4 linked regions of the Homo sapiens genome follow. The protein of the gene in region 4 purifies or fractionates together with the protein of the main gene of each other region. This does not show direct contact. Each region holds a gene or a part of one and is shown on either strand. Other genes may lie near its edges.

What was found.
Region 1: the proteins of RABGGTB (region 4) and RAP2A purify together in Homo sapiens (affinity purification with mass spectrometry; 4 studies listed by BioGRID and IntAct, with this or other methods). This does not show direct contact.
Region 2: the proteins of RABGGTB (region 4) and TRIM33 purify together in Homo sapiens (affinity purification with mass spectrometry; 4 studies listed by BioGRID and IntAct, with this or other methods). This does not show direct contact.
Region 3: the proteins of RABGGTB (region 4) and NOTCH2 purify together in Homo sapiens (affinity purification with mass spectrometry; 4 studies listed by BioGRID and IntAct, with this or other methods). This does not show direct contact.

What each region holds. Positions count from the first base shown.
Region 1 is NC_000013.11:97,436,917-97,444,837, forward strand, and holds part of RAP2A (ras-related protein Rap-2a), read left to right. Parts: intron 1-7,921. UniProt on the Homo sapiens protein: Small GTP-binding protein which cycles between a GDP-bound inactive and a GTP-bound active form. In its active form interacts with and regulates several effectors including MAP4K4, MINK1 and TNIK.
Region 2 is NC_000001.11:114,395,679-114,403,599, forward strand, and holds part of TRIM33 (E3 ubiquitin-protein ligase TRIM33), read right to left. Parts: intron 7,206-7,921; coding exon 7,082-7,205; intron 5,786-7,081; coding exon 5,711-5,785; intron 3,932-5,710; coding exon 3,779-3,931; intron 2,313-3,778; coding exon 2,262-2,312; intron 2,183-2,261; coding exon 1,970-2,182; 3' UTR 1-1,969. UniProt on the Homo sapiens protein: Acts as an E3 ubiquitin-protein ligase. Promotes SMAD4 ubiquitination, nuclear exclusion and degradation via the ubiquitin proteasome pathway. According to PubMed:16751102, does not promote a decrease in the level of endogenous SMAD4.
Region 3 is NC_000001.11:120,059,310-120,067,230, reverse strand, and holds part of NOTCH2 (neurogenic locus notch homolog protein 2 isoform 1 preproprotein), read left to right. Parts: intron 1-7,921. UniProt on the Homo sapiens protein: Functions as a receptor for membrane-bound ligands Jagged-1 (JAG1), Jagged-2 (JAG2) and Delta-1 (DLL1) to regulate cell-fate determination.
Region 4 is NC_000001.11:75,781,525-75,789,753, forward strand, and holds the start of RABGGTB (geranylgeranyl transferase type-2 subunit beta), read left to right. Parts: upstream 1-4,731; 5' UTR 4,732-4,747; coding exon 4,748-4,750; intron 4,751-5,547; exon of another isoform or gene 5,548-5,625; intron 5,626-5,972; coding exon 5,973-6,080; intron 6,081-6,364; exon of another isoform or gene 6,365-6,448; intron 6,449-7,634; coding exon 7,635-7,832; intron 7,833-7,952; exon of another isoform or gene 7,953-8,023; intron 8,024-8,229. UniProt on the Homo sapiens protein: Catalyzes the transfer of a geranylgeranyl moiety from geranylgeranyl diphosphate to both cysteines of Rab proteins with the C-terminal sequence -XXCC, -XCXC and -CCXX, such as RAB1A, RAB3A, RAB5A and RAB7A.

The sequences.
Region 1 (7,921 bases), on a different chromosome or scaffold from region 4:
CATCCTAACCCCAGCGTCTGGCTTCCCATCATTGATGGAGAGGACATGTGAATGCAGGTGGCCTCTTCTTTACCAGTCTTTCAGTATTTGATATCTACTGTCAAATTCAGTATTCAGCTTTAGGTCTAGGTCAGCACTTTTCAATAGAGATATAACGTGAGCCACATATGTAATTTTAACATTCCTAGTAGCTGATTTTTTAAAAATAACATAAATATATGGAATTAATTTTAATGTATTTTATTTAACCCACCATATTTAAAATAGAATCATTTTGACATGTCAGTATTCAAAAATTATTAATAAGGTACTTTACTTCTTTATACTGTGTCTTCAAAGTTTGGTATGTGTTTGACCTACCACATCTCAATTCAAACAAGTCACATTTCAAGTGCTCAGTAGCCGTATGTGGCCACAGGCTGCCATATTGGACAACAGAGGTCTAAGGTGTATATGATTTGGGGAAATGCTTGCTTATTTCTCTAAGCTTCAGTTTCCTTATCTGTGAAATAGAGATTAGCATGCACCTTCCAGAGTCCTTGTTAGAATTAAATGAGATAATGTATTTTAACATTCCCAAAACAATACCAGTACACAGAAATTGCTCAAAAAATTCTAGCTGTCATTCTTACTTTAATAACTTTGTCATTTATCTTCCTTAAATGTTACCCTTGATATAAATGTAATTTTAGAAGAAATAAATTTGTAATTGCATTTTGGAATTCATTACTTAGTATATTCAAGATGAGACTAAAAAGCAATGAGGTTAAAATAATCCTTGGAAGAATTGTGTTGGTATTCTCTTGAAATTATTTCCCCTTATGAAGGATCTGATGGAAAAGGGCATGAGAATGAACATTTAACTTCAAGTACAGTATAGCAATAATGCATAGCACTAATGCATAGCCAAACAACGAATGGAGCTTTTCATTTTTCATTTTCATTTCAAATAATAGCAGTCATTTTCAAGGATTGCTATTACTTGAAATGTTTCACTTTTAAGAAATGTGAAACTGACCCATACTCCCTTAAGTGTCTGTAAGTGTACATACCTCCGTATACATACATGACCTCTTGTCAAAGCCAAGTGGACCAACTGAAAATGGCTATATTTGTAAATTCATATGCTTTCTTTTCTTAACTTGATTTTGGGTGAGATGACACACACAAAGAAGAGTAACAGGGATATAGGAAATGTTTTTCAGTTGAAATAAAACTAGAATTTTTTTCTGATTTTGTAATTGCTTTTTTCATTGTTACCCATGCCAGGATCAGCCATGGTCCTGACATGAAGTTCTTGGAACATGATATACAAGGCCTCTTTGCTGTTAGGAAAAAGTCCAGAAATCTTCAACATGACCTTTCACAGTCCAGCTTGCTCTTATCCCTCCCTGCCTGTGCAGCCTCACCTCTTGCACCCATCCTTTTATTCTAGCACCCAGACCTTAAGTCCTTGAAAGTACCTTTCTCTGGGCTCTCCTTTGGCCTGTGGAAATCTACCTTTTTGCAGAGTTAATTCCTACTCCGTCTTTCACCCTCACCCCTGCTTAACCCATTTATACCGGAGGTTGCAAATGTTTTTTGTGAAATATCAGACCTTAGCAATGACCTTGAACAGTAGGATATAAATAACTCCCACAAGCTTAGTGTTCCAATAATGGAACACTAGGCATAGATGAGTTAAAAGATTTTTCCCCACTGAGGGAAGATGTCCTCTCAAACCAAAGTAACCCCTTTCCTGTCTTCCCTTACTAAACTTTATGCCTCACCTCTTTGCTCAATCACACATACCCTGTCCTTTCCCTTTTCTTTGAAGCACTCATCCAAATTTAATTATTTGTGTGATAATTTATGGGTAGCCAGCCTTTCTCACAAAACTCCAAGCCCACGTAGGTGACACAGCTCCTACTAGCACATAGGAAACAAGAAAAAATGTTGAAAAAATGAATGTTCAGAAAGAAAAGTATTTGTATTGTTGTTTGGCCTCAGTTTCCCTAAACATTTTGATTTCATAGATGGAGGAGATGATCTTTTAAAGTTCATTTTGCAGATGGAGATGATCTTCCTTCAGCTCGAACTTTCTGTGAGAACACTTCCAGTTGGGGCAGTGTTTAATACGAACCTCAAAGAATCAGAAACATGATGTATTCCAGATGGAGGAAATGGCACAGGAAATGCATAGAATATGTTTTTTGGATGTTAAATAGAGCAGACTGGCCAAATGGGGAATGTATATAGAAGTGTGAGGGGAGGTAAGGTGAAAATTTTTAAAGCTAAATTACTGAAGGTTAAAGACTTAGGAGTTGATCATGTAGTCAAGGACCATAATCACAATTGTCATAGGTATAGCAATATGTAGTGATATGGTAGATGTCTTAGTGGTAATAGACTACTCTGTTTCATAACAGGAAGAATAGTCATAAATGTTGTGATAATCCAGTTTTTACGTGAAGTGTGAAAATCCTGAATTAGCATGGTGTCTGTAGTAACAGGAGAGAAAGGATGCAAGGAATGTTGTAAAGAATGAAGTAATCAAACTCAGTGGTAGAGGAAGAGGAAAAGGTCAGAAGTAACCTTGACATTTTGAAATGAACAAATAGGATTATGGAGGAATAGCTGGGGGAGATTATTTTCAGTTTTGGAGATGGTAATTATCCAGATAGCCAGCCTAATAAGTAATTAGAACATTTGAATAAAGCCTGAAAGGTCAGGTTATGTATGAATATGAAGACTCAGGATCATCTGCGTAGTTCAGATTGGGAGAGTAGATGAAACCTACTGGGTAGAGTATAGAGACAGAAATGAATGGATATGGCTAACAATAGAAATGAGGAATGAATGAATATAGCCAAGGATAGAACTCGAGAGTTGTAAGATACACAGTGGAGACTTCCTATATTGCAGTAGGCGAGAAGGCGTGGGGTGTTTTAAGATTGGGAAAAAGATAGTTGACTAGCACTACCCAAGGTGAGTAAGTTGTTTTTTTTTAAGATTATTATTAATTTTCTATATCACTTAAGTGGTCACTTTCAAGTGAGCTGGCTGATTGTTTACACTTTCCCCCTTACCATAAGTAGCTATTAAAGCCTACTCTAAAACAGAAGCATATTACCAATTGTTACACATAGATCTTTGGCCCATGACAGTTTGGTGCTGGAGAGCCGAAACGAGAGTATACATCAAAAGATGTCTGTCCCAAGTAAGTGAAACTTCTGGAGCTCTGCTACCGTTTTTCCCTCTAAAAATACCTGCTTCCCCAGTACCAAAACTTAATTCAAAGCTGGACCTCCCAGGTACAGAGCCTAATAGCTGTGGGTCACTTTTTTTTTGTTTTGTTTTGGTACTGGTGAATTAGTAGGAAAAATTTTTAATAATAAATATATATAACATGAAGAATTGATGACTAAATCCTGAAAGTCAGACATAAATCCAAACAAAGAATTTGGGTATGAAGATAAGGACTGATGGTGAAACCTCTATCCACTTAAATACAAAACTAAGATAAAAGAATTGTGAGAATTATGGCTGCCAAACAGAATATTAAAGTTAAAAAGACTGACAATATGAAACAAACAATATAACTAGTAAGTCAGGATGAGAGGAGGGAAATAGTTATGAGTGCTCACTTCATCTTTCATGAGAGGGATTTAAATGGTCAAAAAATTGAAATTTGTTTTGAAAATGACTCGAAGAGCTCAGTGTTTTTCATGATCTTTTTTTCTTTAAAAACCACTTTATTGAGGTATGATTGATGTACAAAAAGCCAGACATATTTAATGTGTACAACTCAGTGAGTTTAGAGATAAGCATACACTTGTGAAATCACCACAATCAATGCTGTAAAACTATCCATCACCTCCAAAAGTTTCCCCCTGCTTTATTTATCTATCCATTCATTCATTCATTCATTCATTTTTTTTGTAGTAAGAACACAACATAAGTTCTGTCTTCTTAGCAAATGTTTATACAATACAGTATTGTTAACTAGAAGTACTATTACCATACAGATGTCTGGGACTTACTTATCTTGCATAACTGAACTTCATACAGTGAATCACTTTATGTGGCCCAGAAGTTTTTCCTGAAAAGGAAACTTTTGTTTTGGCTGCATTGTAAAATTACAGGTTACAGTATATAGTTTTCTTTTTGCCACTCCAGGATTGTAATTTTTAAAGCTCAATTTGGAGTTGGAGGAGATGATGTCTCTTCCTCTCTAACATTCTGTGAGAGCACTTTTGTCTGGCCGGGGTGATGAGGGAAGGGGTCAAGTTTAATATGAACCTTAAAGAATCAGCAGCCTGTGACCCACAATTTTGTCTAGTTAAGATTTGATAATTGTATCAATAAAATCTACAATAAGGAATAATTATACTAATACTTATTTTTTAATGGAGGGCAAAAATAATTTAAATTATTAAACATTAAGGAAGAGGTAGAGGAACTAAGAAAAATCACTGGATTTCACAGCCAACAGGAAGAGCCAACAAAGTTGGAATCTATTTGCTAAAGTTTCAGTAGCAATATACTTGAGTGATTTAATTTCTGTGTGTGAAGTTCTGGGAAATTACATATGGCACAATAAGGTGCATATATTATGCATGTATATGTACATATTTTTAAGCAAGGATCTTTACATAAAACCAAGTACACTGTACTTAAGGGAATTTTTTTTCAGGGGTATTTTTTTCTTTTCAGTTCTCTTTTAGTCATTGTCTTTAGAACCTTACTGCCTAGGGGAGCATGTATGCCTTACTCTGGGGTTTTCTTTGCTTCTGTTTTGATTTTTCCCTGTTTTCTGTTTCTCTCCATCTATTCTTACCTACTGTTTTTTTACACACTTATATTTTTCAGGCCTATGTTGTAAAAAGAGTTTTAAGTACTCTAAGTTTTTTTGGAGTAATAAGAGTTTGAATACGAGCAGACTTTCAAACAAGGTAAAACTGATGGTGACTGAATAGTTACTAAAGGAAATGTATAGATATTGTGTTTATGTAGGAAATTTATCTTGAAATTTTAATGGTGTGCAGAAATATGCCATATATTATATATTGCCATTTCATTTGTTACTTTGACACTTGTGGTTCATATCATTAAAAATTATTCTCAGCCTGACAGAGAGAAGTTTAATTTCTTAAACATCCTTTCTGCTTTACCAGATCAAACTCAGCCTTTTAGTAGAGTAATATCAATAATAGTAATGCTGTAATTGTGGACATCTGCATTTCAGTCAAGTATGTTAAATAAAGCATAAATATATTAGTAAAATTTAAAGTAATCAAAATAACTAAAAACAATATTTGAAGATTCTAATACATAATCTAGCTAAGATTTTGTCATGGTATGTATTAAATTCTTTCTCTGGCATAATTGTATAGATGGGGATTTGTTTTTGTTTTTTATTTCTCTAATACATTTAAGATTTTAAAACATACCAAAATTTATATTTAGGGAGAAATAAGGTGACTTATAATTTTTATTTTTAAATTGTTATCTGTCAAAAAGCCAAATATTGGAAAAAATTAATAACTATCTCTATTTTTATAGATCCACTCAGCAGGGGATTTCACATTTTCTTAACCAGGGCCCTCAGTAAGAAGTACATTTTATATTGTGACTTAGTGCACACATAGGAATAAATACATCTAGCCGAAATCAACATTTCATAAGACAGTAAACTTGCTATGTTGCTTGTATTACTTTTTCTATTTATTTTTTTCTATTTTATTTCGTTGTTTTTAAGTGCTTTTCATGACCCACCAAATTGATTTTATCACACATAGCTTGGAAACTGCTATCCTAGGACATTTTTACTCTAAGAAAACTAAATGTAACTATCTGTTTAATATTTCATCTTCTCTCTCCTGCTTTTCTGGTTCCCAGCAATGCTGTGTAAGATTACGAAAATGAAGTACTTCCCAATGTGAGTTAGTAAATACTACCTGTAATTCAGAGAAAGATAGCATTTAGTCACTGAACAAAAAGATATAGCATATCTTTTGAGAAAGCATTTATCTCTGTTGTGCATATTAGAAATATGAGAATGTATTTCTCATGTAATGTTGTTCATTCTAGTAATTCAAGATAACTTTTGCCTTGTGAAAACTTAGAACAGAGAAAGGGAGGTTGTGGTAGTATTCAGACTTGAATACATGAGTGCGGGATTATCTATTTCAAGAACAGTTGCTGAGGAGGTTCAGAAAACTCAAAATAGAGGTCTGCTGCATCTATCCAGGATAACACTGATTCACCTCTCCCTGTAAGACAGTAAAACTATAAATATCTTAAAATCACTTAGTAAAGTTACCCAAGAGAAACATTGAAAAACCTTTATTTAAAACATTTAGGAGTGTTCTCATGCTTTCCTGACCCTTAGAAATTAATAATTCAAATGTGGAAATACTATATTAATAATTCAATGCATATTAGTATTTTCTCTACTAAGTATCTTTACAGCTCTCTCTCTGTAAATGAAATCTTAGAGTATTTTAAGAGACAGGGTCTTGTTCTGTTGCCCAGGCTGGAGTGCAGCGGCGCCATCAGAGCTTACTGCAGCCTCTAACTCCTGGGCTCAAGCAACCCTTCTGCCTCAGCCATCTGAATAGCTAGGACTACAGAGCAGGCACCACCGCATCCAAGTAATTCTTTAAAAATTTTTTCTAGAGATGGGATCTTGTTATTTTGCCCAGGCTGGTCTCAAACTCCTGGCCTCAAGTGTTCCGACTACCTCAACTGCCCAAAGCACTGGGATTACAGGCCTGAGCCACTGCCCCTGGTCCTAAATTAATTCATCTTTAGGTTTCCAATGAACATTATGAATACTGTATGTATTATAATTCTCGAATGGAGTATTTTATTGTATATACTTATCTTCTCATCCATGAAGACAGCGAATGTTAATCTCATTAAAGCTGAGATCCAGCACTTATTAGTTATGTAATTAGGAGCAAGTTGACATTCCTTGCATTTTAATTTCCTCATTTGTAATATGAGTATGATGTAGTAACTCGTGAGATAACGAACGTAAAGTGTTTCTTTACATAGTGAACCTAAAATATTAATAATAAAGTTTCACCAAGAATCACAGAAATAGGAATGAAACCCAGCCTTTTATCTGTATACTGCCACGTGACTTCTTAGGAATTAGGCTCAATTGTCTTACTATATTGAGATGAATTATATACCTAGTATAGTATAACATTTCTGTTTTTCCCATTGCTTTCTCCTCTGTGTTTTAAGTGCTCTAACACTACGTTATAGAACTTATAGCATAGACCTTGAGTGCTTTGTGTTTTTGCCTTCCCCTAGAGACCTAAATATATTGGCTATAAATGGTGGCGGTAAATTTTTTGACTCATGAGGAATTGTGATGATTTTTAGTACACATATTTTAAATATTAATATGTGACATAAAAAGCAATCAGCATATTAGTATTTGTTAACACTTCTCTTTTTAAAAAAGTTAATAATGACAGTAGACCTCTTTATGAATACCAAATATGCATGGGGTGAAGATAATTTTAACAGTCTTTATGGCTAGTTATATATAGTAACATGCTGGCATAGCTTTTTAATAATCAAATTGAGAAAAGTTTTGTCTTTGTATAAAAGTCATCACTATCAACTAATATCATTTAAGCCACCTCATTTGCATAGCATTGCCTTGGGCATTATACAGAATAAGAACAAGATACTATCTTTGTCCTTCTGGTGTGCCAAAATGTCCTATAAATGGGTATATATTTTGCAGTATTGAGTTATACAGAAATATATTTTTAAAGACACTTTCATTTCTAAGTTTCAAAATATTTTTGCACCAAAAACATTGCTCTTATTAGGCCACCTTTTCTAAGGAAGTTTTTATTCATTTTATGGAAATTCAGAATTTTGTCTACAAGACTAATGACAACAATTGTATATTTAT
Region 2 (7,921 bases), about 39 Mb from region 4:
AAAAACATTTTTAGGAATTTAAAATTTGAGTAAAATGTTTCAACAGTTTGGTATATTTTCAACGGCTTAAATTATTTTTTAAAAATTGAAAGAAAAGTGAAAAGGAAGCCAGGAATAAAGTAAATCAATAGTAATAATAAAATCAATACTCTTTAAATACACAACCAGAAAGCCTGAATCATATTCCTGTTTACCCCCACCCCTTGTTAAGAAAAGAAAAACAACCCAAAGGAATTTGTATAATAATTTCTTTAGAGCACTTTATTTGATTCAATATGCATTAAAAAATATTGACCTCTTAGACAATTACGTGAAATAATTTTCTGAGTAGTCTACTCTCTGAACTGCTTAAATGAATTTTTAAAAAGGCAAATAAATGATTTGCCACAAATCTGCTGACTTCTGAAAAATATCTAACAGCAAATTCTTCTATTTTGGTCTCTGAATATTCTAATGTGTCCATACAAAAGTAGGACTAAAATCTTTAATCAAACAAAAGAGAAGCCTGTAACAGTGTAGAACACACATTTTGAATCTGAGCATCACAAATGAAGAAAAGAAAAATGAACCAGAGCCAAGTTGGTTTATCGGCCTCGGGTGCTGTAATTGGGGTGGTAAAGGTGGGTTTACTCCAGTAACCATTCAAGTGGGGATTGGCTCATTTTCAGGATTTACTTACAGGTCTCTTCTAAGTCCTTTAAGCCCCCAGTCCATGCAAATGTCCCACTTGGTGGACAGATGAGTAATCTAACCCCACCGGGTTTATTTCAATATTTCGATATTTCAATAATAAGCTGCTTCTGAAGATTTTTTGAGAAGTCTGTTCTCTATTAAAATAAGATAGAACCTCAAAATATGAATGTGAACATTAGAAATAGACAGCATATATTACAAATCCATTCTTGATAGGAACATTAGTAAGAATACACATTAGCTTAAAAAACAGGCTCAGCAAATGTTGCTGATCTGCCAAAAGTTTTAGTTCACTATTTACAAATAAGACAAAGTGAAATACAGAAAATTTTACACATTTGGTAGTTGACAGATACTGTTTGCCAATAGTGGTCTATCAGAAAACTGACATGAAGGAAGACTGGAAAAGAGCCAGTTGTCACCTTCTCAAATTTAAATGTACAGAAAACTAGATTAATTTTGAAACAAACATTCTGCCTTTCATGGGAATAACTGTATGATCACATGATTTGATTGGGAAGTACAATTGTGAGGAAGTGTTTTCTGGAAACAACTACTATAACTCTAAATAATCCACTAATGAAAAGTTACCATTTTTGTTTCAGTAGACCATTGAAGTTGATTAAATGATAACTAGTGGTAGTGTTTCCTAAACCCTAAGTATGAGTAGAAAATAAAACCATTGCTGAGTTCTTTATATCAATTTAAAAACTAAGACCCAACAGCATAAAAATGAGAAAAAACATAATGGCATGATTCAATGCAAATCTGCACTGACATTAAAGTAGAATCTGAGCTACTTGGGTTTTTAACTAGAAAACAACCTGATATGTATGTGTGTGAAGGGGGAGGGTTAAAAGTTGTTTTAATAACTGTGCGACCTAGTCCAAAAAGAAAATTTATCAAGTGACACGAGTCTCAAGTATTTACTCGTATACCAAGTATCCTGCACCAATCAATAGCACACAATCATCAATATTTGCCATTTCTAACAATCAGAGAATCATCTCCATTAGAACAGAAATCCTCAAATCATTTCACTTTTGCTTTTTGCTTTGAAACTTGCAAACAGACTTCTCTCCCCCTTTCTTGACAAGAATGTGTTTCTGTCCATTATTTCAATCTAATACTGTGTAAAAGCTATCAGCTTCTTCAAGGAGGTGCCCACTGTAGGCAGGATATTCCAGCAACACTTAAAAGTTTTCTGGGTTTTTTGTGTTTTTTTTTTTTTTTTCGTTTTTTTTTTTTTAAACAATTGATTTAAATCCATGTCATTTTACTTTATATGTACTGGTCTCTCATCTGACTTTAGGCGTTTTCTGCGGGGCTGTATAAAGTCTTCATCAGAGTCCTCAGTTACCTCACCATCATCCTCTTCCTGCTCAAACTCTGGCAAAGGTGCGAAGGTCCTGTCTGAGTAGATCTCTGTGAGTTTATCTTCAAAGTACAATGCAACTGCTTTCCCTGCCTGAGCTACTTCTGAATCAGCCTGCAAGCAAAAGATAGGAATATTCACCTATTGGTAATGCATATTCCTTCACCAAGTTTGCATGGTCTGAAAAGCTTACCTTCAAATTAATCTCTTGTGTGTCTGCATAAACTTGAACAACTTTCATCATCTAAAAAGGATACCAGAGTCAAAAAAAAAAAAGGGAAATTATAATCCTTTCTAAAGTTATGAGACTGCATAGGATTGGCGACGAAAAGTCAGCCATACTAGGGAGAACAAATTGCTATAACCAGATAAAGTGCTTTTCTAAAATTCTACAGAACATGGAACCATTTTCTTTACAAAGCCCTGTTACTAAAGCTACTGTGAAACCTCAGTAATTGTCTTATTTTGAATTATCAAGGTCAATCTGAATAGGAATTGGTCTGAACACATCAATCTATCCAAGAGAAAAATATTTGTGAAGCATATTATACAAGAAACGTTGCTTTAAAAAACTGACAAACTTTCAACAAACCACTTAATAAAAATTCTATCTGTATAGCAATATGTTAATCATAAACTATTTATTACTGAGGCAGGAAACATGGGTCTTCTTATCAACTATAGTTCATGAAAGCATATTTATTTGAAAATAATTTAACTGCACTGAAAAATAAGACAGAATTTGGGACTAAATATAACTTCAAACTAGTGAGATTTTACTAATATACTCTGTGCCATACTGCTATAAAGGTGACTTAGAATTTTCACCTTATGAGGATTTTGTTTTGTTTTTGATTTTAAAATGCCATCTGGATGCTTCCAGAGGCAGCTATAGGAATACGTTACAGGATCCAATGTGATTTATTTTAGTAATAATCATATGGCACCCAAATTACACCAGCAATAAAGAGACTTTAGTATTAATCTTTTAAAAGATTTTGTGGATTCTCATTAAATTCCATTTTCTTCTCCTACAATGAAACTCTTCCATAACAATAATAGAATCGATTTTATCCCTAATAAAAACAATTTCCCTGAAACAGGTATATAATACATTTCTTCTCAAGGCATGGCTAACTCAAACTTACCCTCAAAAAAAAAAAAAAAAACAAAACAAAACAAAACAAAAAACAAAAAACTCCCCAAACCAAAAAACATAACCAAAATTAATCAAAGTCACACTGCTGAAATAAGAAAACTTAGTATTATATACTCTGGGCTACTATTCAAGATGGGTCACCAGAGATTAGTTTGTTATTTTAAGGTTCTACATTCATGTTGTCAATAATAAAATGCAAGGACATGGGTACAGATAACTTTCCTAATAGTACCCAAAACGTAAGCTGTTTATAATCATATTCCACAAAATATACGTAACTACTGACAGTACTTTCCATACTTATGCCAATCCTCAACTCATTTAGAAAAGGATATTTGATAATATTCTTAATTTATTATATTTAAGTATATACTCCAAATTATACACAATAAATTTTCTTCACTGGAGCTGTTAATACAATCAGATGTTACTTTTGACAGGACTTTAGCAGAAAAAAAAATTTTAATAAAATTAAAGTCAGCAGAAAAATAAAACAAGGAAACAAACAAAAACTAACAAATCAAGACTCTATAGGTTGGAAGTTAACATACTTCATTAAACCTTTCACAGTTCTTGAAGATCAAACGGACATCGGCCACAAAGTCATCCGGGATTTGGTAGTGTTGGGAATGTTTTTTCTGAAGCTTCTTTTTCACGGTGGATAAATCCATTGGTTTCTTTATAATTTTATAGTAGTTTGGTATCTAAAATAAGCACATAATGGCAAATAAGAATTCTCCAAAAATGCCAAACTGTTTAATTTGAAAATGCATAGCATATTAATTTTAGGGAAAAAAATTATTATAGAGCCAGCTGCTTGCAAATTTTGAGTATAGACGTATGTACTTTACATCTTCATGAAAACCAAATCTTATGTGGCATATGTGCCAATCTTCATGGTTAGTCCAAGTCCCCAAAGTCCTACTTTTAATAATAAGATTTGGAAAGAAAGCAATTAGCAAGGGTAACCAACCAGTAGCCTTGAGGCAACATTTGACTTACCAGAATTTTATGACTCCTTAGGAGTTTTTCTTTTTTTTTTAAAGAAAAAAATTTACAAAATATATTAATGTTACAATTAGAATATGATGTCTTTTGGAAAACATAACAGGGAATATCATTTACATCACGAAGTCTTGACTTAGTAACAGAGGAAGTAAGACTAAGAACATAAGAAAAATTTACTAACTTTATTAACCATTTAGTGTTCACGCTAGGGAATTCTGACCCCAACTCTGGCGAAAAATTTCTACCCTTGGGATAAAAGTAAAGTTAGAGAAGCTATTTTATTGACTGATTGACTAATTGATTTTTGAGATGGAGTCTTGCTCTGTCGCCCAGGCTGGAGTGCAGTGGTGCAGTGGCGCCAACTGTGGCTCATTGCCACCTCCATCCCCTGGCAATTATCCTGCCTCAGCCTCCCTAGCAGTTGGGATTACAGGCATGCACTACCACGCCCGGCTAATTTTTATATTTTCAGTAGAGAGGGGGTTTCACCATGTTGGCCAGGCTGGTCTTGAACTCCTGAACTCAAGTGATCTGCCTGCCAGGCCTCCCAAAATGATGGGATTACAGGCATGAGCCACCATGCCCGGCCAAGAAGCTACTTTAATAGTCCATAAAAAGAAAACATTTGAAAGTCATTTTCTACTTTAAAATCCCTGCACTTAAAGATGAGACAAATTTTCCAGAAACAGATGATTACTGCTTGTACAAAACATCTTCCTTCTGTCTATACCTTTTGTGATTTAAAATTCATTTCTCAGGCTACCCAGTAAACAAGTCAACTACCATTTAATATTCTCTAACAGGCCTGGTATGTAATAATGTACTATTCAACAACTGATGGCTAGCAATAAAATGTGTGTAGAATATTCTTACCCCACTTATTAGGCACCAAACACCTCTAATCTTCCTTTTATTGCAGCATTTTAGAGCCTTTATTCCTTACAAAACTCAATGACTATAGACTATGCTAAATATTTTACATAGGTTATTTTATATAATCCTCAGAACAACCCAATGAGGTAAAAAATCGTGTCAGAAAACTTGAGTCTTAGAGAGGTTGAAGAGCTTATTCCAGAAGGCTGAGGTGTAATACAACTTAGTCTAAGGCCATACTCTTTTTTTTTTTTTTCTTTTTTTTTTTGAGACGGAGTCTCGCTCTGTCGCCCAGGCTGGAGTGCAGTGGCGCGATCTCGGCTCACTGCAAGCTCCGCCTCCCGGGTTCATGCCATTCTCCTGCCTCAGCCTCCGGAGTAGCTGGGACTACAGGTGCCCGCCACCGTGCCCGGCTAGTTTTTTGTATTTTTAGTAGACACGGGGTTTCACCGTGGTCTCTATTTCCTGACCTCGTGATCCGCCTGCCTCGGCCTCCCAAAGTGCTGGGATTACAGGCGTGAGCCACCGCGCCCGGCCGCCAGAGCCCATACTCTTAAGTATTATGAGACTTCCCCACCGAGCTACTAAGGTAGGCAACTCACCGAAGCAGGAACAGGCTCCTGGAATTCAATACTTAATTCATGGCAATAGAGGTAAAGCAGAAGACGTTCACATTTCTGGCCCAAACAAGGAAAGGAAAGCACATGAAATATTTTTCTCCTAATAAAACATTCTCGAGAATGAGAACTATATCACAACAAAGTTTGATTACAACAAACTGAACACAAGCCCCCTGTTTACTAGATACTCAACTAAACATAAACACCCAAAGAAAATTCCCTTGCTTCTCATTTTGTTTTCAGACTATCTTTTGTTCTACTTTAAGTAAGAATGGAAGATAACTAAGGTAATTTATGGAAGGGAGTCACAAAAGCAACATCTAACACTTTGTGCAAAAATTTATAAATTACTTGGTAATAAATAAATAAGTAAATAAATTATCACTGTTGCTCCTCATGGTAATTCCTTAGACAGGCAAGACAAATGTTGAAAGTTATCATCCCCTTTCTTCAAATGATTCCAGTCAGGTTCAAAATGAAAATGGCCTTCTCAGTCTAACTCCAAAAATATTTTTTTACCCAATCATGAGTAAACTGAAATGCATTTTACATTCACAGTCTTCTATTTATCTAAACTTCTTTTAATACAAGTTTGTATACCCTAAACACGTATCTTGTCTTCACAGATAGTGGATGAGGGTTTTTACCAGTATATACACCAGAGTAGAGCCAAACTTAACTCTAATGACCACACGACAATGCAAAAGAGTCTGTCTTTGGCAATCAGACTACAGGCCAGATTGGTAAAAATCTGAGTAAAGTAAGGAGAGAGTTTCCATTTTTAATATGATGAGAAGCTATTAGAGGATTTTAAGCAAGGAAATGATAGACTTGTTTACTTTTTTAAAAAGAACACTGTTTAATACAGAAAACAAACTATAAAGGTCAAGAGCAGAAGCGGGGAGAGCAGTTAAGAGATCACTACAATAGTCCAGATGAGAAATTATGATGTAAGGTAAGAAAATCATATTATAGTTATTATTATTTCATTTCTAATAGGTTTCTAACCTGAGCAACAGAAATGAATGGTGGTATCATTCAATTAAGGGGAATACTGGGGGAGGAATACAGTTTTTTATGTCGTTATTTGCTTGGTTTTGTGCTTGGAGGGAGAGGATTAGAAATTAAGATTTTAGTTGGGACATGTTAAGTTTGAGGAATCTGGATAGAAGGGTCTGTAGTTCAGGGTTAGAGGAAAAAAAGACTTCAGAAATCATCAATATACCATCAGATGACAGGATTAAAAATTAAATGTTATCAGGTTTTGTGTATGCTACACAGGAAAAAAAAAGGTGTATATATAGGCAGACAACTACTGAATCCCAGTGACAAATCAACTTATTTGACACTTACCCTTTGGTCCACGGGGCTTAACCCCTGCGCAGTTTTCCCCTTCTTACTATGTTGCAAATTATCACAATCATATTCAACTTCTGGCTTTCCAATATCTCTACAAAATGTGCATATCCAGTCCCCACTAGACAGGGAAATAGGCAATTAGTCCACGTAATTATAAGAAAGCCTGCTCTAGAGAAGCTACTTCCCTGGACTGGGGCCTGGTTTATTTTCTTAATAATTTTTTGAAAAAAGGGAGGTTTTATAGTTGTGAAATCTCGTCAGGTGAAGTCATGTGATTAAAAACTCCTCTAAATTTTCCTAGTCACGCATCAATTGATTACTTTCTGGAATGCATTATAAAAATGGCACCTCCGCATTAAAAGGGGGTCTCTTAGTAGTGATGAGCAGTACTTGCAGCATAAGGCCTAAGACCAATTCTCTCAGATCCCAGTATCACCATTATGTGGACTCAGTTATTTATGAAGAAGAAGAGCACAGGTTGCAGAGTTTCTCAGGTATCTTGTACTGTTTTGGCATGTATTAAAATGCCACAAGTAAATCAGTTCTTTTTTCGTGGTCAAAACCTAGAACACACAAACACATACCTGCAGGCACAAGCACATGTATATATACCTCCTTTTTTTTGGAGACAGAATCTCCCCCTTGCCCAGGCTGGAGGGCAGTGGCATAATCTTGGTTCACTGCAACCTCCGCCTCTCGGGTTCAAGCGATTCTTGTACCTCAGCCTCCCTAGGAGCTGGGATTACAGGCGTGCACCATCATGACCGGCAGATTTTTCTATTTTTTTTGAGACACAGTTTCACTGGGTCCTCCAGGCTGGAGTACACAGTGGCA
Region 3 (7,921 bases), about 44 Mb from region 4:
CAAATCTTAAATCTTCTTAGAGTCTACAGTGAAGGCTTCTTGAATCCTCTTAATTTATTATTGTGTTTTGCTAAGGTACCAGTTGCAGCACACCCTTCTAAACTTTTGAGTGTTCCTGTGTTTGGCTTGTGGCCAATTGTTAATTTAAACATCACGGAGTTTCTAAGGCAAGGAGATGTTAGCAGTATGTCTGATTGTCTAAACAGCTATCCAGGACCATCCTCTTGCTCCTTGTTTTCTTTTGCTTTGCAATGGGAAGTGACTCCCTGATTTTGCTGCCTGCTAGATAATTTCTCAGCTGAATTCTTCTCTTGCTTAAACAAAATCGGAGTAATTTTCTTTCAGATGGTGATGAAATTTAACCTAAAACTATTTTTCCTTTCACTTTCTTATTATTCCTTTTTTTTTGGTGTGGTGGAGAGGAGGAGGAGAGTGATTCCTAGTCTCTCTTATTTTTCTGAATGTTTAGATTTAAAAAATATTTACCCATAACTTCTTGGGATCTCTCTGCTCCATTCCCACCCTACTGCCTCTCCTGTAGGCTTCTATGACATAGAGGAGCAACTTTTGGTTCACCTGGATTGTAGTTGCTGACTTCAGGACCTTTAGAGAATGTTTAAATTCAGTGGGATATGCTTGGATGGTTCAGAGCAGCCTTACAATACATCTTAAAAATATCACACCCACAGAAATTCTATTTTGCCCACAAAATTTGCATTGATCTAGTTCCCACTCTGTGTTGCCATTCCTAGTGATCCTCCTCCCTACCTCTCCCATTATGGTAGAAAAAACTCTGTGTCCTGGCTACATCAAAATCTGTTGGGGTGGATCTTGGACTCAGCACCCAGGGATTCTGATAAGGTAAGTTTGAGAATCCATATTTTTTCAAGGTTTACAGGTGATTCTGACAAGTAACTTGGTTGCAACCCACTGATTAAGTACATTTTTTTTTACCTTCAGGTGTGTGTATGAGGTCTTTCTAAATTTAAGAAATTTCCATAACAAATGTAACCTTAGTCATTCCAGTGTTTAACGCTTCTGACTCAAGGAATTTAAAAATTGCTAACGTAAGAGATATAGAATATAATGTCATTTCTTCTATTTATCTGGGTGCAATATGTCTGCATTGACCCTTTAGAAGGGCTTCATATATTTAGATGATATAATAAATTCTCCACCTCTCCTTTTCCCTTTTCTTCTGTTATCTCTTTTTCCTTAAATGTCATTCATACATGTTGTTTTTTGACCCTTTATCTATATACGTCTGCAATGATTTTAGAGTAAAAAACTGCAAGGCGTGATTTGAATAAGGATATAAGAAATTTTACATCATTTTCTTTATATTGTGTTCACAGTCCATAGTTACATGCTTCCTTTCTTGATGTCTCAGTTCGAATGCCTAAATTTGAACTATTGATTTTCCTTCCACCCTTTCCTGATTTTCCTGTTTTTGTTTCTCCCCCTTTCTCTGCAAATGACTTGAAACCAAAAGGTCTTCTTTTCTTTCTTTGTCAGCCTACCGTATGTGTAGTATTTTGGACAGATCACTGAACTAGGAGCCAGAAGACCAGAATTCTTCTCCAGGTCTGTTATTAATTGGTTTGGTGACCTTGTAGGAGAGCCACTGTTTCCGTCCTCCATTTTCTGATGTTCATTGTTCATGGTCACAGAGCCAATTAGAGTTGAGACTAGAATTCCTTTCTTCTGGTGTCCAGTGCCTCATTCACTGTCCTCATTGCTTCCATCTCGTGTACAAATGCGCTTATGTGCACAAAAACTCTTATAACATCCTCAAGTGCTTATTGTTAATGCGTACATGAGGAAGGAATCGTGTATTTTCATTTATGTGTTTATTCTAATGCCCATACCCTACCCCTGTACCTGGCATGATGCCTTGGTATCTAATAGGCACACAATAAATACTTGTTCAGTCGAACAATTATTTTTAGCCATTTTCTTATTTTGGACAACTGTGGTACTCCTAGACATTTTAAAAACAGTATTTGCAGGAGTCATGCTTACCTTACATTTGGGGAAAAACCAAATTTTTCCCTTCCCCAGATGTTTCATTTTAACTTGTAATTTTGAATTTCTTTGTGTGTGGGGTTTCTTTCTTTCTTTTTCTGATCACTTCTGCAATTTATAAAGGTCACTTTGACTTTGGAATCTCACTTCAAAGGCACTGCCATCCACCCCCTGCCTCTCACTCAAGTTTGCTTCCACTGCTTCCTGTATTACTGTATTACTAGGCCAGCAATTTCTGTTATTTTGTCCAGAATAGCCACACCTTATTGTAATTTCATCATTTTGGGGACTAGTCATTTTTGGAATACTATTTTTAAAATTAGAGTTAACTAAGTTTATATTTATTTTGATAATTTTTTTTGAGATTTTTTTCATTGAGTTGGATATTGCAAACTTGTACTGGATTGAGAGAATATGTACATTTAGTAAAGTATATTTGCTTTTTTTTTTTTTTGAACCAAGAGAGTCCCCTGAACACCCTACTGACAAAAACTAAAGATGAAATATGATGAATAAATATTTGAGAGAATCACATGGTGTTGAGTTGTCTCTGCCACATGATTTTGATCCTTGAGGGCCAGGTCTGTGCTACACACATTTCTTCTCTGTACTACAGAACTTGTCTGGCATGTGCCCCAAATTCAGAGTCAACTGAGCAGCAGGTCTTAGTCACAGCATCTATGACTCCTGCTTTCCCACCTTTAGAACATTCTATAGGAGAGGCTGATGGTGAGTTGGAGTGTGTTTCTATGTTCTTTTTTCCTTTGAAGAGATAGGATCAGTTGAAAGCTGACCCCACCCACAGACTTTTTTTGCTATCTCTTTTAATTAATTAAGGAGTGGCTGAAATTTTCCTCTTTGTTGACTTATGCATTGGCGGGAACTTTAAAATTCATCTAGTCTTTCTGTCCATCCCATGCTGGATCTGATGTTTACAACATTCTAGTCAAGAGGTACCATATTTTCTCTCTTCTTGAACATCTCTTGTGGTAGACAGCTCTCCACAGCAGTTTATTCCATCTTTGGCCAGCTCTAATTCTTAGAAAGATCTTCTTATATTCAGCTGTAATCCGTCTCCTCATGACTTGTCCTCATTGACATCTACTCAGAAATTTGTCTCAGAGTCCTGAGACCTGTGCAGGTGATAGGGACCCAAAGAGATGCTTGTCTGTAGACTTTACTGAGCTGACACCCAGCTCTCCATAAAAGGAGTCAAACCCAGTGAGGAGCATGTCTGAGGTGATTGCTCAGGTAAAGCATCTTAGCCCTACTTGTTTCATACCTCCCTGCACAGGTGGGCACTGGTGGGAGAATAACATTTATCAAGCAGTGTTTCCCTAACCTCTCTTATGATAAGAATAGCTCAGGTGTTCTCATGGAGATTCTGATTCAGTGCATCTGGAGTGTCATCTGGGAATTTGTGTGTTCAAGAAATAGCCAGGTGATTCTTACATTAGGAAAGTTTTAGAATCACTGCAGAGTGAATCTGGGAAATCAAAGTGTTTTTGTTTGTTTGTTTTTTGAGAGTATTAGAGACAGGTTGCTTTGGCTAGATCCTGTGGTCATTTTTCCCCCTTGGAAATGCCTCCTACTTGCTGGCCTCACTTAGTACAGAGAAGAAAGCTGCTATGGTATAAGGTTAGTAAAGTTGTTTTGTCTTAAAAGAAATTTGCGAAATCCAGCATTTTCAGACTTCTGTTTGTGTTGTATGACTTTGTTGTAAGCCTCCTTATTCCTCCATTAGAATGTTACCTGAGATGTTAGAATGCATAGGAGTTCCACAGCCTTTTTGGTGTCCACTAAAGAATTCTGTCCTCAGCCGTTGCAAATGGTGCTTCCTTTGAGGATTTCTGCTTCATTAGCTCATGAACACATATTTGGTGTCGGCAGTTTCCCTCAGATGTGTTAGTGTGGAGAGATATAAAGGTCACTCATTTCTGGCAGTCCTGCTTTTGGGGTTTCTGGGCTGCTGCAGCAAATGAAATAAGGAAAGGAAAATAAAGGAGGAATCTAGGGCTTCTTGAGCAGAACAAAACAATCTGCAAGAAGGGGCACAGGATTGCTCCTCTCACAAAGACACTTGATAATACTGTCCTTGATAGGAAGAAGGAAGTGGCTTCAGATCTGAAAGGATATGCTCATAGGCTTGAGACGGGACAAACTGCATCACTGGTAGTGGTAGGAGGTTTGCCGTAGATCTGTTTTTTCTCCTGTCTCTCTTTTTTGAGGAGAATATTATCTGTATGGCAGAACATACGTTGTGGTCTTAAAAAGGAGAGTAAAGCCAAGAAAGGGGGATGATAAAGCCATAGCTTGGAATAAGAAAAGCAAAGGAATTATTGTATTAACTTGTGTATGTAAATACATAGGTTTCCATGTAATTCACTGGTAGGATCACTAGCCCTTGGCACTAACATTTGCTATCTTTGTAGCTCTGCTGTCTTAGTGGTGTATTGGGGGAGCATTGTGGTGTGTTGTCACACTTAATTTGTGTGCTTCCCTTGGCATCATGTGGTAGCAAGTACAGGGTATTCTCCTCTTCTAGATGTGTGGGAATCATTGACCAAGTAGAAAATATGGTCCTGCTCCCAAGGAGCTGACATCATCATGGAGACAAGACAGATAAGCACACAATTAGGAATATGAAATACAGTTATTTTATCATTTATCTATGCTCTCTGAAAGCAGTTTCCTGCAGTCAGGGTGACTCGGAGCTATAGGGTCTTGGGAGTAAACTTCAGGTCTTAATACCACCAGGGAAAGGCGACCTCCAGCTCACCCTTGCTGGGCTTGTCTGCTGTCGTGAGCTGTCTGCCATTTTCCTCTTTCTGTGTTGTAATTTAGAAGTATTAGAACTTGGCTTGGGGAAAAGACAAAAACCCCTTTGTCTGGTGAGGGTGTAAATATAAATTTGGCACATGTTGTGGTGTCTATTATGTCTGTTAGTGGGTTTGCGGCAAGAGAGAGTGCTGTGTTCTTAGTCCCGAATGCCAAGCCTGAACTAGGACAAGTTATGGTGGAGATATCTTCCTTGGAAGATGCAGTTCTCAGTGGCAGTGGCTGAAGGAACTTCTCGTCACAGCCAGGCAGTGACTGAAGTGTGGTGTGGACACACCCAGAGTTGCTGCCTCAGGTGGCATTGATTAATCATACTAATATCTCCCTCACCCTTTTGTACTTGTCTTGGCAAAACCCTGTTCTACTAGCTCCCCAATAGTTTGGCCTTTACTAGGTATGATTGAACAAGCTCTTGGGGGTTCACCTTAGTGTCCCTTGCCCCTCTCGCATTTCCAGCCAGCTACGTCGCTCCAGCCATGGTACCCCGGGTCCTCTGGCCAGGCAGTGAGGGGCTGGGTTTTTCTTCCCATTGGACTGAAGCACCTTTCCCTGGAGGCTTGCCTAGGGCAGTTTCTGGTCTCCGAGTCAGTTCCTTCTGCAGGATACTGGCAGCTGGCAGAACTCTGGGTTATTTGAATACATCAGCCAAACATCTTGCCAAGATGGACTCATTGTTGCATAAAGACAGGTTGGATCTATGGGTGTTGCAGAACCTGTTTCTGGGTTAAGAGTAGCTCTCTCACCCTTATTATATATGTTTATTCATATGATGAATGTATGTGTGTATTTTGTGAAGTAAGGAAAACATGATGATAATATTGTGGTTGGAGTTAGATACCTTATCCTAAATATGTTGTCTTTTTAACAAATAGCATTCCTTTAAAATACAGTTGTGCTTGATGAATAAGGTGTTGTACAAGAAGCTGTGGTTACATTCTAAAATAAACTGCCTTGTTCTGAGGCAGGCACGTTTTAAAATTGTTGTTTGCTTCTTTTTCATCTCTTTTTATTTTCATCTTTTTTTTTGTGAGAAGATTCTGTAAGTTTTTAAGCTTCAAATATTTTCAATAATCTATTTTAACGGGTACCTAGCAGGGAGAGGTTGTTCTATTGGTATACCTAACCAACATTCAAATAAGAATAATTGAATACTGTTTACTCACTAATCTGTTCTGTTGAGTTTCTAAGTATGAATAATCACAAAACTAGATAGTGCTGATATATCAACTTCTCTAAATGGTAAATGTGGTAAGTAGCAAAGACATTTTTGTTTAATTCTCTCCTTACACATGCTTTGGTTCAGACGCTGTCAAGACACATTGAAGTTTGAGGACATGTGTATTTCGATTATTTTATTATATTTTTATTTGCTGTGAATATGGGTTTATTTATTTGCTAGATCTTCTTTAGTTAGAAACATTAAGGGCATTTACTTTATTACAACATTTAAAGTGCATTCTAATCTTCATGAGGAATTTTAGGTAAAAGACCGTATCCTGAGATTCATGCAAGTCTTTGGCATTATGTTACTATTTAAAGTAAGTAATATGTAGTGGCTTCTCTGACATATTCTTTCTAAGAGAGTTAAGGAAAATAGTTGTAACTAAAAACAAACATTGAAACAGTTTAAGGTAGGTTTACGTAGCAACAGAATTATTCGTTATGTTTACAGATAATTAACTCGTATTTATACTTTGCTGATTTTCTCTGGCACCTTTACAAGATTTTTTTATTTTTGTAAAATAAAAAGTAATTATGTTTGAAAAAGTAGTTAAGGATGTTTGAAGAATCTAGAAAAGCATAAATAAAATGTCCACAATCATGCTGCCATTAATTTTTTGGTATACGTCTTTGGTTTTTTTACCCTTAGATTTAGAAAAGCTGTTGATTTATTTTTATATATATATATATATATATTTAGTTTATGAACAGATCTACATATATATATATGCACACACACATAATATACTATTGTCAACACTAGGTTTTATTTTTAAAAATCTTTACCATTTGATAAGTGGTAAATATTACTTAATCTTAATATGCCTCTCTCATTACAGTGATATTGAATGTTTTTTCATATCATCAGTGGCGTTTGTATTGCCTTTTTTTCTACTTCTTTTGGTAAATTGTGTCTTTTACTCATTTAATTATTTTCTTACTGGTTTGAAAAAGCTCTTTAAATATTAAGGGTGTTAGTCTTTTGTCTTAAATATGTCACAATATGTATGGAAATAATTAGCAGTATATAACATAACATCAAATTGCTACCAATGTTGATATAAAAATTGTTCATTTCATAGGTTAATTTTTTTAATCCTTTGGTTTCTAATGATATTGGTTAATTCATTTGTTAACTGCTATTTTCTGTAGCTACTTGAAAGTTCTTATCTGACTGTATCGTAAATCAGCATGCTTTCAGCTGTATATGTCTAGGAAATTGACATTTACTTTAATACTTAATAAAAAAATATGTTGGAGAAAAGCAGTGTATTCTGGAGTCAAATACATGATTTTGGGTGGGTGACGTAATCGGCTACTGTCCTCCTTTTCTAGATAGCCAAGATTTTTGAAGCATTTAACATCCCTGAAAGGCAGGACTAATGCTATGTCTACCATGCACTGCTAATTCTGACACTTTGACCTAATGGATAAATGCCAGTACAGTGGGTCTAGCCAGTTAGCTTGGTCAGAGAACAAGATGACTAAGATTCTCTCCCCCTTTCCTCACCAAATTGATTAGTTGTAGGACAGAACTGACTGAAGCAACCTGTTGTTTTGGCAACCCATGGACACCACCTGTTTCTTCCATTCCTCTGTCCAGCCTCTCACTGCCCTAGTGCAGTGCTGTGTGCACAGTGGGTAGGAGATCAATGTTGTTGCTAAAGAATGTAGCAATAAAGAAGAGTAGATTGCTTTTTTTCCAAGCTTTTGTGTTTTTAAGGCACCCCGCTGGTTTTGACATTCGTTGCTCCAGCTGAACTGCTCTATGCTGAAGCCCTGCAGGTCTCAAGTGTTTGGTTCAGAGTAATTTCAGGCCATATGAATGCTTTCTTAA
Region 4 (8,229 bases):
CTAAAAACTCTCAATAAACTAGGTATTGATGGAATGTATCTCAAAATAATAAGAGCTATCTATGACAAACCCACAGCCAATATCATACTGAATGGGCAAAAACTGGAAGCATTCCCTTTGAGAACTGGCACAAGACAGGGATGCCATCACTCACCACTCCTATTTAACATAGCGTTGGAAGTTCTGGCCAGGGCAATCAGGCAGGAGAAGGACATAAAGGGTATTCAATTAGGAAAAGAGGAAGTCAAATTGTCCCTGTTTGCAGATGACATGATTGTATATTTAGAAAACCCCATCGTCTCAGCCCAAAATCTCCTTAAGCTGATAAGCAACTTCAGCAAAGTCTCAGGATACAAAATCAATGTGCAAAAATCACAAGCATTCCTAAACACCAATAACAGACAAACAGAGAGCCAACTTATGAGTGAACTCCCATTCACAATTGCTTCAAAGAGAATAAAATACCTAGAATCCAACTTACAAGGGATGTGAAGGACCTCTTCAAGGAGAACCACAAACCACTGCTCAATGAAATAAAAGAGGATACAAACAAATGGAAGAACATTCCATGCTCATGGGTAGGAAGAATCAATATCATGAAAATGGCCATACTGCCCAAGGTAATTTATAGATTCAATGCCATCCCCATCAAGCTACTAATGACTTTCTTCACAGAACTGGAAAAAACTACTTTAAAGTTCATATGGAACCAAAAAAGAGCCCACATTGCCAAGTCAATCTTGAGCCAAAAGAACAAAGCTGCAGGCATCATGCTACCTGACTTCAAACTATACTACAAGGCTACGGTAACCAAAACAGCATGGTACTGGTACCAAAACAGAAATATAGACCAATGGAACAGAACAGAGCCCTCAGAAATAATGCCACATATCTACAACTATCTGATCTTTGACAAACCTGACAAAAACAAGCAATGGGGAAAGGATTCCCTATTTAATAAATGGTGCTAGGAAAACTGGCTAGATATATGTAGAAAGCTGAAAGTGGATCCCTTCCTTACACCTTATACAAAAATGAATTCAAGATGGATTAAAGACTTAAATGTTAGACCTAAAACCATAAAAACCCTAGAAGAAAACCTAGGTAATACTATTCAGGACATAGGCATGGGCAAGGACTTCATGTCTAAAACACCAAAAGCAATGGCAGCAAAAGCCAAAATTGACAAATGGGATCTAATTAAACTCAAGAGCTTCTGCACAGCAAAAGAAACTACCATCACAGTGAACAGGCAACCTACAGAATGGGACAAAATTTTTGCAACCTACTCGACAAAATGTTTGCAACCTACTCATCTGACAAAGGGCTAATATCCAGAATCTACAATGAACTCAAACAAATTTACAAGAAAAAAACAACCCCATCAAAAAGTGGGCAAAGGATATGAACAGACACTTCTCAAAAGAAGACATTTATGCAGCCAAAAAACACATGAAAAAATGCTCATCATCACTGGCCATCAGAGAAATGCAAATCAAAACCATAACGAGATACCATCTCACACCAGTTAGAATGGCAATCATTAAAAAGTCAGGAAACAACAGGTGCTGGAGAGGATGTGGAGAAATAGGAACACTTTTACTGTTGGTGGGACTGTAAACTAGTTCAACCATTGTGGAAGTCAGTGTGGCAATTCCTCAGGGATCTAGAACTAGAAATACCATTTGACCCAGGCATCCTATTACTAGGTATATACACAAAGGATTATAAATCATGATGGTATAAAGACACATGCACACGTATGTTTATTGCGGCACTATTCACAATAGCAAAGACTTGGAACCAACCCAAATGTCCAACAATGATAGACTGGATTAAGAAAATGTGGCACATATACACCATGGAATACTATGCAGCCATAAGAAAGGATGAGTTCATGTCCTTTGTAGGGACATGGATGAAGCTGGAAACCATCATTCTGAGCAAACTATCGCAAGGACAAAAAACCAAACACCCCATGTTCTCACTCATAGGTGGGAATTGAACAATGAGAACACAGGGACACACGAAGGGGAACATCACACACCGGGGACGGTTGTGGGGTCGGGGGAAGGGGGATGGATAGCATTAGGTGATATACCTAATGCTAAATGACGAGTTAATGGGTGCAGCACACCAACATGGCACATGTATACATATGTAACAAACCTGCACGTTGTGCACATGTACCGTAAAACTTAAATAATAATAAAAAAAATCAAAATAAAATAGAAGTTGAAGAAAAGGAAGAAAAACAAAGTCAGGAAACAACAGAAGCTGGATAAGATGTGGAGAAATAGGAACACTTTTACATTGTTGGTGGGAGTGTAAAGTAGTTCAACCACTGTGGAAGACAGTGTTGTGATTCCTCAAGGATCTAGAACTAGAAATAGCATTTGACCCAGTGATCCCATTACGGGGTATATACCCAAAGATTATAAACACACATGCACACGTATGTTTATTGGGCACTATTCACAATAGCAAAGACTTGGATCCAACTCAAATGTCATCAACGATAGAGTGGATTAAGAAAATGTGGCACATATACACCATGGAATACTATGCAACCATAAAAAAGGATGAGTTCATGTCCTTTGTGGGGTCATGGATGAAGCTGGAAACCATTATTCTGAGCAAAGTATCACAAGGATAGAAAACCAAACACCGCATATTCTCACTCATAGGTGGGAATTGAAGAATGAGAATACCTGGACACAGGGCAGGGAACATCACACACAGGGGCCTGTCATGGTGTTGGGGGAGGGGGGAAGGATAGCATTAGGAGAAATACCTAATTTAAATGATGAGTTAATGGGTGCAGCAATCCAACCTGGCACATGTATATCCATGTAACAAACCTACACGTTGTACACATGTACCCTAGAACTTACAGTATAATTTTTTTAAAAAAAGTAACTTCCAATATTTTTACTATTAGCACTCTCCGAAGAAGTGTTTGTGGTGGCGGTGGTGGTGGTGGGGAGGGTGGCCTGTGTGTGTGGCGAGGAGAGGGGGCGGGTACAGGGCTGGACCTTGAGATAGATAAGGCAAACAGGAAGGAAATGTGAACATTTCATTAATATTCATTTAAAAAATATTCATTGAACACTTACTACGTGTAAGCAGGCACTCTACTAATTAACAGCCATTTCAGATTTTCAGAGTGCAAAGGGCCTCAAGAACAAATGATTTATTTTTTTGAGACATGGTCTCGTTCTGTCTCACACCCTGCAGTGCAGTGGCATTATCACCGCTCACTGTAGCCTCCACCCCCTGCCCCACAGCTCAAGTAATTCTCTCACCTCAGCTTCCCCAGTAGCTGAAACCACAGGCTTGGGCAACCACGTCTGGCTCATATTTTTATTATTTGTAGAGACGGGGGTCTTGCAACATTGCCCAGGCTGGTCTGGATCTCCTGGAACCGCCTTTGCAAAATTATAACTGAGGAAATTATGGCAGTGAAAGAAATCAGACCTAACGGATTCCATCTTGCTTCTAACTTTTGTTTTTGAGACTAGTCTCGCTCTGTCGCCCAGGGTGGAGTGCAGTGGCGTGATCTCTGCTCACTGCAAGCTCCGCCTCCCGGGTTTAAGCCATTCTCCTGCCTCAACCTCAGGAGTAGATGGGACTACAGGCGCCCACCCCCACGCCCGGCTAATTTTTTGTATTTGTAGTAGAGACGGGGTTTTAGCCAGGATGGTCTCGATCCCCTGACCTCGTGATCCGCCCGCCTTGGCCTCCCAAAGTGCTGGGATTACAGGCGTGAGCCACCGGCCGCTTCTAACTTTTAAGCTGTCCTTCTTCATTCCTGAGCCTAGGCTGAACCAATTTAGGGAGGAATTCAGTTTATGGTTTGACTCTGAAACAAAATTGATAATATCCCTTTCCCAAAAAGACCGCTTTTTTGCCTGGGGACCAGTCTGCCTTTGCAGAACCAACAGATTAGCTACAAGATTAGAAATTACAGTTTAGAGGTCATGCAGCCTCTGGCTCCAAGTTTCTGAACCTCCCCAAATTGCTCCTGGGGATAACATCACTATTGTAAAACCTAAGATAAGTTCTTGAGATATTTTGCAGACCCTGCTCTCCATGGATCAGTTGAAACCACCCAGATTGGTAATTTGGCTCAACCAGTTCTGCCATCCTACCCAGGAACAGAAAACAGCAAGAAAAACTCACGTCTACCCACTATGAGTCCATCTCCAACCTGACCCATCAGCACTCCCTACTTCCCAAGCCCCTAATCGCCGAATTATCTTTAAAAACTCTGAATACTGCTTGGGGAGACTCCATTGCAAGTCCCCTGTCTTGATAAATGGGCTATCGGTCAGCAGCAGGCAAAGTGAACCACAATATTGGGTGGTTACACTCCTAGGATCAAGCAATCCTGCTGTCCGGCTTCCCAAAGTGCTGGGATTACAGGCGTAAGCCACCGCGTCCAGCTAGAACAAATGATTTCTTAAAAGCAACTCAGATATTTAAATATTATTTAAAACTGTTTCTAGACAAATCGGAGTGACTATGGGACAAGCATATGGTCGCAGGACTTTGGACGCAGGCAGTGAGGACACCTATGAGCGATCAGTGGGGTCCTACGGCAGCCGTGGAACTGCTCTGCCTTGCAGGCGAAAGTGTGGTCAGCTATATCGGAGCGCGATGGGGGCCTGAGAGGCGCATCTGCGCAGGCGCCCGGCTCCTAAGTCTACCCAGGAACTGACCCTGCTCTCTCCTTTCCCTGTTAGACATGGTAAGTGTGAGTTTAGCGCTGCTGTCCGGATGGGTTGGTAGCAGACAGGGTGGAGTAGGGTTAAGCACACTGGTCACCTTAGGATTGGTTTCCTGGTGCTGGAGAATGGTTAGGACACAGGCCTTGGAAGGTTTTTTGAGTGTGAAATATTACTCAGCGTTTTCTGCAGACCTCGCGGGCAATGCCGCTTCTAATTTTATCCAGGCCTTCTTCTGTAGGGAGGGCCTGTTAAGAGTTGAGCAGCCCGATTTCTGAACCCCTCTAAAAAGCTGTGGCTGATTGGTGGCTTTTTTTTTTCTTGGAGAGGGGGTGTCAAAGATTTCTTTAAAATCGTTAGTGATGTGGTCTCGCTTTAAGATTTTTAATGGGATCAGAAGAAAATTCGGTACTTAATCACTTCCGGTAATCTTCATGACCTGTTATAGTGACTGCAGTGTACTCTCAATGAGGAAGATATAGATACGAAAAGAACTAGAGCCGCATCACATGGGGACTTCTGCAAATACAGAGACTCGGATTAAAGGTGGAGAAGATGGAGCTAAAGGAACTGCTTATTTAATACATTTGAACAACTTTTGGGGTACTTAGAAGGTGCTTTGAAACCTGCATTTGATTAAGCAAGAATTCGCTTGCAAGTTAAGGGTTAGATTTTTTTATTTTTTAAAAATATGCTTTCTGCCACATGTAAACCGTAAGTTGTCCTGAAATGATAAGCTTTGATATTCTATGGTGTTTATTTTTTACTTATCTTTTTGAATGAAAAGTGAACAACAAGAAATGCTGGTGGTAATTTTTTGGGTCAATGATGAGTTGGCATGTATTCTGAATCTAAAGTTGATTATTACTACTTTAGCTCTAGAATTACTCTGAGACCTGAAAATTACCTGAATCGTGACTAAGACGAAGCCTGAATGATTTAAGTTCTTTTTTGTTGGATACAATTTGTTGTTGTTGTTGTTGTTTTGGTTTTGTTTTTGAGTCGGTCTCCGGTCGCCCAGGATGGAGTGCAGTGACACAACCTCAGTTCACTGCAGCCTTAATTTCCCTGGCTCAAGCGATCTTCTACCTCAGCCTCCCTAGTTAGTTACAATTTTTAAATGGAACGTTTTCCTATTACAAGATGAAATCAAGTGAAAATTGAGATGTATGTTGAATCTATGCTGTGGGGCAGAAGAACGTTGTAGAGGTAAACATTGATGAGATTACCACTTTATTTTGAAAGGGCACTCCACAGAAGGATGTTATTATCAAGTCAGATGCACCGGACACTTTGTTATTGGAGAAACATGCAGATTATATCGCATCCTATGGCTCAAAGAAAGATGATTATGTATGTATAATTTTTTTATGTTGGAAAGTTTATTTTAAAGAAGTGTGACAGTCATAAGCAGTGAGACAGTATTTATGTCTTAAAATGGCATCCAACTCCATGCAGAGAACTGAGGATGTGCTGTGCCTTTGAACTTCAGTTAAGTGTGCTTTGGACGTCTGAGGCTGTGGGCTTATTAGAATCTCAGTTTTTACCTATACTGAGAGGGCTTGCCAGACAAAGTAGATGAGGGTTTGAGGTACAAAACGGGTTTCTCTTTTTGTAGTTAGGGGTAATACTTTCAAGGTCAATGATGTGTTGGCATGTATTATCTGAATCTATTGCTGATGTGTAATAACACTTTAGCTCTAGAATTACTCTGAGACCTTGAAAAAGTTTTACCTTAAATTTTTAAATTTCGAGGAAAACTCTGGGACAATCTTAGCAAAAAGTAGTAAACAACTTAGTTAAGAGTAAATGTTTTTCCCTGTAGTATCCAAACTCAGTTGTCTTAGTCTACCGATTTGTGGGATATATGGTATGTATTAATTTTTTACTTAAGTGTTAGGTTCCCATAACCTTGAAAATACTCTATTAGCAATCATGGAGTTAAGGCCATATGGATGGGGCTGGACTCGTTTCTGCCTTTATCTGCTATCTATCTTTATGCCCTGAATTTGGGTTAGTAGCAAACTAAGATGCACCACCTGTTAAAAAAACTTCTTTTTTTCCTTTTGAGAGCTATAACCTCACTTTGTTGCCCAGACTGGAGGACAGCGGTGCGATCTGGGCTCACTGCAGCCTCCATCTCCTGGGTTTAAGTGAGCCACCTGAATAGCTGGGATTACAGGCACATTCCACCATGCCCAGCTAGTTTTTGTATTTTTCGTAGAGACTGAGTTTTGCTATGTTGGCCAGAGTGGTCTCAAACTCCTGACCTCAAGTGATCTGCCTGCCCCAGCTTTCCAAAGTGCTGGGATTACAGGCAGGAGCCACCACCCAGCCACAAAACTTCTTAAAATATAATGCATTGTTGAGTGTGGGAAAAATTTGTTTCTGGAATCCTAATACTAATTTTCATGTATCATTGATTAGCCACTGTTTTATCTGGGCTTAAACATCTTTGGCATGTTTAGGGCATTTTGATTTTTCATGTAGTTATATAATTTACTAATAGATAATAGGTTTTGTACAGAGTCCACATTAAAATAGATGTCTGATAAATATGGTATAGGTACTCGGAAAGAAATACTCTCCCTGAACTTCACTGATGAAAAAGGTAGATGTTTTTCTGTCTCTGGCTCATGGGAGAAACTAAAGCACTGTTTGTATTGTCAGCCATAGATTAACTAATCCTGTGCTTCTCAGATAATTGTTTTTTTCTGATAATAGTTGTGTCTGAAGATGGCTTCTAACATTGAGCAGCACAGATTTTAAACTCACTACTGATCAGTGCTGTTAAGGTCAGGAGAGGTAAAAATAGCAGCATGGCTAATGAGTTACCTTTGTGTTTAATCTCTTTATAACTTGTTACCAGTTCAAATGACAGATTTAAGAAATTGTGTATTATTTTAGGAATACTGTATGTCTGAGTATTTGAGAATGAGTGGCATCTATTGGGGTCTGACAGTAATGGATCTCATGGGACAACTTCATCGCATGAATAGAGAAGAGATTCTGGCATTTATTAAGTCTTGCCAACATGAATGTGGTGGAATAAGTGCTAGTATCGGACATGATCCTCATCTTTTATACACTCTTAGTGCTGTCCAGGTAAATACTAATCAAAATTGCAACGATCTTGATAGTATGTTCTCTTACTTCAGAGTTGGAAATTGAAACTGTATCAGGATTTGGTCAAAAAGTTTTGTTACAAGTGAAGCTGTCCTACAAGGTCAATGATGTAATGGCATGTATTAGCTGAATCTAAAGTTGATGTGAGTTCTAAAATTACACTGAGACCTTGGAGGGTAAAATTTTTATCTTCAGTATGTGTAAATACTGTAAAATAGCTAAATGGAGCTATTTGATTTTGATATTAGTGAACATCTACCTGGTGGTTTAAAGTCTTTCTGGTACTACTGGGTGCTGAGATGGGAAGATCAGGACTTTGTGTGGATGTGAGTTAGTATACTTGAGTATCTTGGAATGCCAAGTTAAAATTTATATG